Linked DNA regions of Homo sapiens. The protein of the gene in region 1 interacts with the protein of each later gene in a pairwise test. Each region holds a gene or a part of one and is shown in the gene's direction. Other genes may lie near its edges. The genes, in order: CHN2, NCK1 and NCK2.

Evidence for each region.
Region 2: the proteins of CHN2 (region 1) and NCK1 interact in binary tests that used the Homo sapiens proteins (3 or more experiments, as listed by UniProt).
Region 3: the proteins of CHN2 (region 1) and NCK2 interact in binary tests that used the Homo sapiens proteins (3 or more experiments, as listed by UniProt).

Annotation. Positions count from the first base shown.
Region 1 is NC_000007.14:29,201,198-29,204,850, forward strand, and holds part of CHN2 (beta-chimaerin), read left to right. Parts: intron 1-3,653.
Region 2 is NC_000003.12:136,924,574-136,928,226, forward strand, and holds part of NCK1 (SH2/SH3 adapter protein NCK1), read left to right. Parts: intron 1-3,410; 5' UTR 3,411-3,428; coding exon 3,429-3,653. UniProt on the Homo sapiens protein: Adapter protein which associates with tyrosine-phosphorylated growth factor receptors, such as KDR and PDGFRB, or their cellular substrates. Maintains low levels of EIF2S1 phosphorylation by promoting its dephosphorylation by PP1.
Region 3 is NC_000002.12:105,880,822-105,884,474, forward strand, and holds part of NCK2 (cytoplasmic protein NCK2), read left to right. Parts: intron 1-506; coding exon 507-1,228; intron 1,229-3,653. UniProt on the Homo sapiens protein: Adapter protein which associates with tyrosine-phosphorylated growth factor receptors or their cellular substrates. Maintains low levels of EIF2S1 phosphorylation by promoting its dephosphorylation by PP1.

The DNA of each region.
Region 1 (3,653 bases):
AGGAACCTTGGTAGTTGTTTCACAGATTCCAACATTGTATAAGAAAATCAGAGCCCAAGGAACTCAGAAACTGTCTCATGCCACTCAGTTACTTGACAGCAGAGCTAGAGCTGGAACTGTCATCTAGGACCCAAGCTCCTGTGACATTAATGCTCCCCCCACCCACTTCCTGGCTCATCCTAAAGAGTAGCATCATCCTTAGAGAATTTCTTGTAGACTTTTTTTTTTTTCTCTCTGGCCTCATAGAGGCTGCTCTATTTAATTACTTAATACTTTCAAAAAAGAAGTCATAAAGCGCTTTATATTTTAAATGGGCCTCAGATCTCCAGGCTGTTGTACCCATAAAGGCACAAAGATTTAAGTGGCTTAGGTCTGCCCTGTGTATAGCTGTGTTGTCCAGTATGGTAACCATTAGTCACATGTGGCTATTTAAATTTAAGTGTAAAAATATTCAGTTCCTCAGTTACCCTAGGCATCTTTCTAGTGCTCAATAGCACACATGGCCAGTGGCTACCATATTGGACTACACAGACACAAAACATTTTTATCATTTTTTACAGGAAATTCTCTAAGACAGAGACAAAACTAATGTAAAATCAACAAGCTAAAAAGAGAAAATCTGATCCAGAGCGCTCCCATTGCTGTGTGTGCTGCTTGTGCTGTTTAGGTTATCTTTTACTAATTTTGCAAATTGACTTTTTAAAAAAGTAATTTCTTTATGACCCCGAGGGAAACTGTGGAATGACAGCTGGAGGATGATATTGGGGAGGGTAATTGAAAATGTTTATAAACTCTGTAGTCCTGAGGTATGATTCAAGCTTTATTTAAAAAGTGGTTTGTTGTTTCCCTAATGGCAACTCAATTTCTTTTTCAAATAAACCCACAGTGAGTTCTGATTTCACCCTCAAAGAGGAAAAAGTGCCCATGTTCAAAAAGTTTGGATCTTACCATTGAATCTCCTTTAAAGACATCGTAAGGAAAACTGTGAATGTGTGGACTGAGGTTGCTAGTGGCATATACAAGCCGTGTTATTTAAAAGAGATTTTCTACCAACCTGGCCATCAGCAGCTAGCTAGAAGGATTTTTACTTCTACAAAAAGCCCACATCAGGGCAAAGCAAATGCATTGGTTTTTAGAAAATAAAGTTAGCTTTTGGAATTTTCAGCACATTTAATTGGGGGGAAATGCATGCAAATAAGATGCAGGAATATGACAGTTTCTAAGAAAAGGAAACAGTTCTCCTTGAACTTCTGTTACCATCCTCAAGTGCAACAAAATGGGAAGGTGGAAGGTGTCTTTAAAGTGTCAAGTTAACTGTCAAGAAAGAGGTGAATGTTGAGGCCATTGGATTCAGAAACTATAATAACCAAAAGACTGTGACATGGTGGCTTATTATTTATTGACATAACTTAGATCATTGATTTAGGGCAATATGAATCACAGAAGCACTTGGGTGATAACCTTATGCAATTCTTTTCTCATCGGAGGCCCAGTTCCTGGATTTTATCGGGCCCCATCATTGCCCTCTGCACCCTCAGTACTGGCTGGGTATTGTCCTTTTCAAGGAAGTGAAACCTAGCGCTTCCTTATTACTTCACATAATGCCATATTAGCAATGTGAAATGCTTTTTCTTACATGATGTTGCTTCCATGAAATAAGCCCAAGAGACTGTTGGGACAGCAAAGAAATGGGAAGCAGGGAGCGTGGCTGTTGCAGTAGATCTCCTGCAGCATGTGTCAGAGGCTGGGGTGTGCCATTGACCTCTAAGGGCCTGATTCTCAAGACCTAGACCTGCACAGTCCAGTGTGACAGCCACATGTGGTTACTGAGCCGTTGAAACATGGCTAGTCTGAATTGAGATGTGCTACAAGTGTAAAATTCACACTAGAGTTCAAACGCTTAGTACAAAGCCAAAAAATATAAAATATCTGACTCATAACCTTTGAAATATTGAATATATGTTTAGGTGATAATATTTTGGATCTAGGCCTGGCACGGTGGCTCACGCCTGTAATCCCAGCACTTTGGGAGGCCAAGGCGGGTGGATCACCTGAGGTCAGGAGTTTGAGATCAGCCTGACCATCATGGTGAAACCTGGTCTCTACTAAAAATACAAAAAGTAGCTGGGCATGGTGGCGCATACCTGTAATCCCAGCTATTCAGGAGGCTGAGGCACAAGAATCGCTTGAATCCGGGAGAAAGAGGTTGTAGTGAGCAGAGATTGCGCCATTGCATTCCAGCCTGGGCAACATGAGTGAAACTCCGTCTCAAAAAAAAAAAAAAAAAAAAAAAAAGGATCTATTAAGCTAAATATAATATATTTACAAAATTAATTTTACCTGTTTTTTAAAAATGTGTTTAAGGTAACTACTAGAATATTTGAAGTTACATGCGTGGCTTACATTATATTTGTATTGGACAGCTGTGGTCTGGATGACTCCAGTGAGAATGTTCTAACCTTGATCGCAGAATCTGCCATACAAAACCTGCTGATGCACTGCTCAGTGGCTCCTGTAGCCCTGTCTACTTATCCTCCATTCACCAAGGCAGAAACTTACCAAGGCAACTCAGCCCTGATTCTCAGGTCCCTGTTTGGTTTTAGTCCCAGACATTGAGAGATGTCCTTAATTTTTCTGAATCTTTATAGTGACTTTCAAGTGAAGTTCTATAAAGAGGAACAGGTTGGGACATTTGTCACATTCTTGTTTAGACAGATTTTGTGTTTTGTTTTGTTTGGGCTTCAGTTTAATTCTAGACTTCATGTATTTTTGTTAGATTTATGTATACGCCTCCTTCCAAAGAAAGCCTGCAATGCTATGAAGTTGGAAAGAGAAGCTGAGGAAACAAAGCACACGTTTTTCTCTCTCTCTGTGTGTGTGTGTGTGTGTGTGTGTGTGTGTGTGTGTGTGTGTGTGTGTAGAAAACTCTTGCCTCATAGCCTTTGTACCGTGATGTCCTGCCATGGATAAGTATGTGGGTTTACATACACATCCACACATATCTGTATTTCTGTATGTGTGTGTATATATGTATACACAGAAAGTGGAAGTGGATTAGGTTCCAATTATTTCCAGTCAAATTTATATCGTATATAAGTTAATATCAAGGGAAATGAAAAGTCAGTTCTAGCATTACTTTTAGTAATGAAATAATTCACTTGGGATTATGCTAATGATATGTAGATATTAATACACATAATTTGGCTGCCTAATATTGATTTAAGTTGCTCATTCAAATTCTCTTTATTACAAAAAAATAACCATTTTGTTTTACAGTGCTTGTCCTCAGAGACAGTGAGATCCAGTAAACCATACTTATTTGGTAAATAATACTATTTTTGCTGATTTTCATATACACAGAGAGCACTATTCTCTTTCAGTAGGTACCCTTTGAGTTGTTAATTTCTGGTTGGGGTCCTGGTTAGCTCTAGCCAAATATCCTCTCTGGATCTGCCTCATGATCAATGCCTAGGGTTGAAGGTACTCCCGGTGACCAGGGCACAGAAGTTTTTGTTCTCTGTGATGTTAATATGCCCTAGGGTTGAACTTTGGTCTCAGGAGAGCCCGAGTCCTATGCTTGCTTTAAGCAGCCAAACTAATCCACATGCCTTTTTTCGGAATATGAATTCTTCAGTGGAAAAAGCAATTGACAG
Region 2 (3,653 bases), on another chromosome or scaffold:
CAGGAGTTCTTAATAAAGGAACACCTTTTCAAAATGAGCTTTTGAAAATATACTGATAATTTAATTTTAGTATAATTGACTTGTTTGCAATCTTATATATTTTTATGCATCAGAAACATTGTGAGTAGAGGTTCTATGTTTCACCACACTGCCATTAGGCAGGAGGAGGGGAGGTCCATGGCTTAACCCATTTGTGCCTAGTGTTCCATTATTGGAACGCTAAGCTTGTGAGAGTTATTTATATCATGCTCAAGGTCGTCACCAAGGTCTGATTTTTCACACAAGAAATTGCAACCTCCGGCATATATGGGTTAAAAAAGGGAAAAGGTCAGGAGCCCTTGATTTGTTCATTTTTGAGGGGTATGGGTTTTTAATCTGTTAGTGCTTAATGAAATCATGGGATTCCAGTTCCCCCACCAAAAATTAGGGGGATAGCTGAACCACAAGGCATAATATTGATAAAATTGGGTGATAGGTATAGGATTCATTATACTATTCTCTTCTGTAAATGTTGAAAAGTGCCATAATTATAAAACTTAAAAGCATTATATAAATTTTTAGTTATTATACCAGTAATGTAGTAGAATGCTATTTTTGTACATTCTGGGGAGGACTAGATAATATTGGTAATACTTTTGTCACCCTGATAGGTAAAGTGTGGTATTTCAGTTTAGTTTTCATTTCTTTAATTATAAAGATATTCAGGATCTTTTGAATACTTTTTGACTATTTGTGTTTTCTCTTTCAGTTTTTATTTTAATTAAACTTTTTATTTTGAGATCATTATAGATCCACATGCAATTCTGAGAAACTTTAGAACTTATTGCGAGATCCAGTGTATGCTTTCCTCCAGTGGCAATACATCTGGCAGAAGTATAGTACAATATCACAATAATATTACAAAATTTCTTCATATTGCCCTTTTATAGTCATACTTACTTCCCTCCTGTTCCTGCTGCCCCGTTAACCCTGGCAACTACTAATCTGTTTCTAATTTCCATATTTTGTCATTTTGAGAGTGTTATATAAATGGAGTCATATAGTTAACCTTTGAGATTGGCTTTTTTCACTGAGCAGTTATAATTCCCTGGAGATTCATCCAGGTCGTTTTGTGCATCAATTGTTCTTTTTGGTATGAACGTACCAGTTTGTTTAATTATTTGCCTGTTGAAGGACATCTGGGTGGTTTCCGGTTTTTGACTGTTAGAAATAAAGTTGCTGTTAACATTCATGTAAAATGTGAACATAAATTTTCATTTCTCTGGGATAAATACCCAGGGGTGCAGTTGCTAGCTTGTATGGTAGTTGCATGTTTAGTTTTATGAGAAACTGTCAGACAATTTTGCGGAGTATCTGTACCATTTTACATTCTCATCAGCAGTATACGTGTGATCCAATTTCAACTTACCCTTGTCAGCATTTGGTATTACCACTCTTAGCCATTCTGACAAGCGTATGTAGTGACATCTCAGTGTGGTTTTAATTTGCATTTCTTTAATAGCTAATGATGAATACCTTTTCATCTGCTTATTTGCCATCTGTAAATCTTCAGTGAATGCCTCTTCATGTTTTTTTGCTCATTTTCTAGTTGGATTTGTTTTTCTAATGTTTCTTTAACTTTTCTAACTGCTTAAGATAGATACTCAGTTCATTAATTTATTTTTAGCTCTTTTTAAAATTTTATTTTAAATTTTATTATTATTATTATTATTATTTTTTGATACAGAGTCTCGCTCTGCGGCCCAGGCTGGAGTGCAGTGGCGCGATCTCGGCTCACTGCAAGCCCCGCCTCCCGGGTTCAAGCCATTCTCCTGCCTCAGCGTCCCAAGTAGCTGGGACTACAGGCACCCGCCACCACGCCTGTCTAATTTTTTTGTATTTTTAGTAGAGACAGGGTTTTACCGTGTTAGCCAGGATGGTCTCGATCTCCTGAACTTGTGATTCACCCGCCTCAGCCTCCTGAAGTGCTGGGATTACAGGCATGAGCCACCGCGCCCGGCCACTCTTTTTGTTTTTTAATGTTACTATTTAAAACTAAAAATCTGTCTATATACACTCCTCTTGCTACATCCCACAGAGTTCGATGTATAGTTTTTAAAATTATTTACTTCTAAGTATTTTCAAAATTCAATATGATTTCTTCTTAGATTCATTAGTTTTTAGAAGTTTCCAAACGTGGTATTTCAAAAGTTATCTTTTTGTTATGGTTGTTGGAGAATATGGTTGTAGGATATCAGTTACGTGAACATTGAGACATTCTTTATGGCCTGGCATTTGATTGCTTTTTGTATGTGTTTCATTTGTTTTCTATTTGGAAGCAATATTCTGTATATGTCTATTAAATCAGACTTGCTGGTTGTGATATGAGTTCTTCTCTAGCCTTAATAATGTTTGTATTTATTTATTTATTTTTTTGAGACCAAGTCTGGCTGTGTCACCCAGGCCTGGAGTGCAGTGGCACGATCTTGGCTAACTGCAACCTCCGCCTCCCAGGTTCAAGGGATTCTCCTGCCTCAGCCTCCTGAGTAGCTGGGATTCCAAGTGTGCGCCACCATACCTAGCTAATTTTTGTATTTTTAGTAGAGATGGGGTTTCACCATGTTGGCCAGGCTGGTCTTGCATTCCTGACCTCAGGTGATCCACCAGCCTCGGCCTCCCGAAGTGCTGGGATTACAGGTGTGTGCCACCAGGCCTGGCCGTTTTTATTTCTTTGTTTTGTTACTCTGATAATATGTTAAAAATTGTCCTCTGTGGTAATGGGTTTGTCAAGATCTCCTTGTGGTTCTGTCAACATATTTTGAAACTATCTTGTTACTAGGTACATAGAAGTTTAGATATTGTAATTGAGTAGAACATTTTTCATTGGGTAGTGAACTTTATTGCTAGTAATGGTTTTTGCCCTTTAAGTTTTGTTTGATACTAATAGAGCAACACCAGTCTCTTTATTGATTGGTTGATTGATTGATTGAGACAGATTCTCCCTCTGTCGCCAGGCTGGAGTGCAGTGGTGCGATATCGGCTCACTGCAACCTTCGCCTCCCAGGTTCAAGCTATTCCCATGCCTCAGCCTCCTGAGTAGCTGGGACTACGGGTGTGCACCATCACGCCCAGCTAATTTTTGTATTTTAGTACAGATGGGGTTTCACCATGTTGGCCAAGCTGGTCTCGAACTCAACCTCAAGTGATCTGCCTGCCTTGGCCTCCCAAAGTGCTGGGATTACAGGCATGAGCCACTGCGCACGGCCATACAGTCACAGTCTCTTTAAATTACTATTTGCCTCATGTATTTTTTTCCATATTTTTTACTTTTCATCTTTATGTCTTTAGATTTTTAGGTGTGTCTCTTTTGAAAAGCATGTGAACTAATACTACCTCAACCTTACATAAAAATATTTTCCATGTGTTTACAGTGCTGAAGCTGCTGAAAGATGGCAGAAGAAGTGGTGGTAGTAGCCAAATTTGATTATGTGGCCCAACAAGAACAAGAGTTGGACATCAAGAAGAATGAGAGATTATGGCTTCTGGATGATTCTAAGTCCTGGTGGCGAGTTCGAAATTCCATGAATAAAACAGGTTTTGTGCCTTCTAACTATGTGGAAAGGAAAAACAGTGCTCGGAAAGCATCTATTGTGAAAAACCTAAAGGATACCTTA
Region 3 (3,653 bases), on another chromosome or scaffold:
CTGGAGTGCAGTGGAGCGATCATGGCTCACTGCAGTCTCAACTCTGGCTCAAGCCATCCTCCCACCTCAGCCTCTCCAGTAGCTGGGGCCACAGATGTGCACCACAGGTGGCTAATTTTTTTTTTTTTTTTTTTTTTTTTTTTTTTTGCAGACACGGTCTCGCTATGTTGCTTAGGCTGGTCTCAGACTCCTGGCCTCAAGCAATCTTCCCGCCTGGGCCTCTCAAAGGCTGGGATTCCAGGCGTGAGCCACTGTGCTGGCCCTGTGACATGTTTTTATGGATAAAATAGATCAATTTAATTCTCAACTTTAAGTAACTTCGCAACTACAGGAGGCAGCTGCCAGCAACCGTATTTTTCTCATGGTAATTACAGTTTGTAAGCACTGTCCATGTGTCGTCCCCTTGTATTTAACCGCCAGAGAAACTGCGTGGAAATCCCGGTAGGCTAGGGAGTGTGGTGGTGCCCAAGTGCCCTGCGCCACTGAGCCTTGCTGTGTCTCCACAGGCCTCGGCAAGACGCGCAGGAAGACCAGCGCGCGGGATGCGTCCCCCACGCCCAGCACGGACGCCGAGTACCCCGCCAATGGCAGCGGCGCCGACCGCATCTACGACCTCAACATCCCGGCCTTCGTCAAGTTCGCCTATGTGGCCGAGCGGGAGGATGAGTTGTCCCTGGTGAAGGGGTCGCGCGTCACCGTCATGGAGAAGTGCAGCGACGGTTGGTGGCGGGGCAGCTACAACGGGCAGATCGGCTGGTTCCCCTCCAACTACGTCTTGGAGGAGGTGGACGAGGCGGCTGCGGAGTCCCCAAGCTTCCTGAGCCTGCGCAAGGGCGCCTCGCTGAGCAATGGCCAGGGCTCCCGCGTGCTGCATGTGGTCCAGACGCTGTACCCCTTCAGCTCAGTCACCGAGGAGGAGCTCAACTTCGAGAAGGGGGAGACCATGGAGGTGATTGAGAAGCCGGAGAACGACCCCGAGTGGTGGAAATGCAAAAATGCCCGGGGCCAGGTGGGCCTCGTCCCCAAAAACTACGTGGTGGTCCTCAGTGACGGGCCTGCCCTGCACCCTGCGCACGCCCCACAGATAAGCTACACCGGGCCCTCGTCCAGCGGGCGCTTCGCGGGCAGAGAGTGGTACTACGGGAACGTGACGCGGCACCAGGCCGAGTGCGCCCTCAACGAGCGGGGCGTGGAGGGCGACTTCCTCATTAGGGACAGCGAGTCCTCGGTAAGTGCGCTGCGCCCACAGCTCCGGCTGCAGGCAGTAAATGCGCCTTGCGCGGTGGGTCTGTGTGCCGCGCCCTTTTCACATTGTGTGAGTACACTAGAAAGAGCGGGAGACGCAGATGAATGCAATTTAGTATAATGTTTGCTACTCCGTGATTTACTTGCATCTGTTTTGGGGATAGTGGGTGTCCATTTCTGGAGGTGGGAGATTAACTAAAAAGATGTTTTTAGCTCACAGAGGTGGTTCTGCTTCTCTCCCAAGATTCCCCCTCTTGTATTTCACAGGCTCAAACATCATTTTCTCTCCTGGTTGCCCATTCTGTGTACGTAGAAGGCCCGAGTGATTTACTTTGTTTCTATTCGGTCTGTGTCCCAGAGAAAGCATTCTTTGCAAGACTGGTGGCTGGTTTCTGACACCTCCTTTTGTTGTTTGCTTGCTTTCTCTTTGTAAACCATATAATCCCAAGGTCATTGCCACGGCAGGCAGCGCCACTGAGTTCATCTCTCAAAAGCTTTTAAAGCACTTACGAGATAAATTGAAAAGAAAACAGGGGTTCTTGGGAGAGATGAGTTTTGTTTGTGTGCAGTGAGTCGGAGATATGAGGCCACTCGACTGGGGCAGCAGACCCAGTTCAGCGGTGGGCAGGCTGGGGGCGGTGAGTTTCAGGCATGGGGTCAAGCCTGCATCCCAGAAGGCAGGCTTTTCGTGTGTGAAGGAAATACTCGACCAGTTTTGCAAACGTCTTTCCGAATACACCTTCTACAATCGAGAGACTTCCAAAACAAGCATTTAGGAGATAGAGTTTAATGTATTTGAATTGTATTGGTTCTAGGAGGCTTCAATTTCATTTTTAAATGCACGCTATAAGACTAGTAAGTATGTACTACCTGCTGCCACTGCTGTCCTCTGAAAAGATTACTGGCACAATGAATAAGTGCTCATTCAAGGGTCCTGTTGACTGATCAGAGAGGCATTCAAAGCCCTCCAGAGAGAGGCGACTGGGATGTGCTCTCTTTGAGGACGGAGCATCGTGGTGGTGGAAACTGGACTCCTTTATGGTGTCATCAATTTTGCGGAGCCTTACATGTGCTTGGACGGGAATGCCAGGCTGAAAGCTAACTTCATCTGAAATCTGAACTCTGAGATTTATCAAGTCACCAGAGTTTATCATTCCTGGCAAGACATCACATTGAATTGTTCTCACATGACGAGAGCTCTGTGCACCACTTCTTTTAGATCGTGTTTGAAGCCTTAAGCAAATTAAGGACAGCAGCGCTTTTAACTCAATCGAGCAGAAACTTAGAGAAAGCGCTGGAAAACCAATTACAATATTAAGTGCTTGGTCCAGAGTCCTTAAGGGCTAAGTATAATGCACAAAATATGATCTTGGCTTAAAATTTTTTGAGTTTGAGGAGACTTCTCAGAAGGAAGTCCTGCAGTGTGGAGACATTGGTCCCAGTCATTATTCTTTCTGCCTAAGATTTGGGGAAAAGAGGAAAGACTTTAGAGGGTAGATGAAAAAGGTGTTCTCCGGGGTTGCTGGCCTTAGGGAGGACCTATGGCTTTTCTGTGGAACATGCACAGGTGGTCATTGCTGTCTGAATTCAGGGACCAAGTCCCTTTGGATAAGGAGGGATGCATGCATTGTCTGGGTTTCATCTCAGAACTCTGCACCCCACTGTCTCAGTTGTCTTATATTGTTAGAGAATGAGCTAACTTTTTCTAAAGAACTAAAGCACGAATTGTTTGTATTTCCTTTTAACAGTTTTTTAATGGGGGCCTTTCAGGGTTTTTTGCATTCTCTCCTAACTTAGAAAGTCAAGGAACAACATATATGATTCTAGGAATATAGGGCGGAAAGAGCTTTACTGGGACTTGCATCGGCTCTGCACACATAGCAGCACCGTCTTTGTCTGAGGTTCCACGTGGCCTGATGCTGTGCAGGGCAGCTTGTCCTGATGGATCTTGCCGTGACACGGGCCATTTTCAGCTGTTAGTGTGCATGCCTTGTTCCATGGGGATTCTGCAAGAGCCCTGAGGTGTGTGTGTGGCTTCTTTTCTCCTGACAGCAGAACCATGCCAGGTTTGCTGTATTTCCTGTTCATAACCAAGGCGTTCTCAGCTGTCATCTGTGACTACCAGGGACCTGTCCTGGTGGACAAGTGGACAAGTCCTTTGCTTGTTTTTTTCCCACCATCCACTGCCTCCCCCCGTCCCCATGTGTTTTCCTGCTCATTTTGGCATTTCTCAGGTTAGAGCTGGCTTTCGCAGCCACCACTAGGCCACCAAGAGCCCTTAGGTTCATGATCTGACATAATTCCTTCGCAGCATGCCAGGATGGAAAGGTTTCTGAGGGGTTCAGCCTCCCTGCAGGACTCAGTCAGGCATCTTTATTTAATTTCCTTTTTTTCTTGCAGTCTTTGGG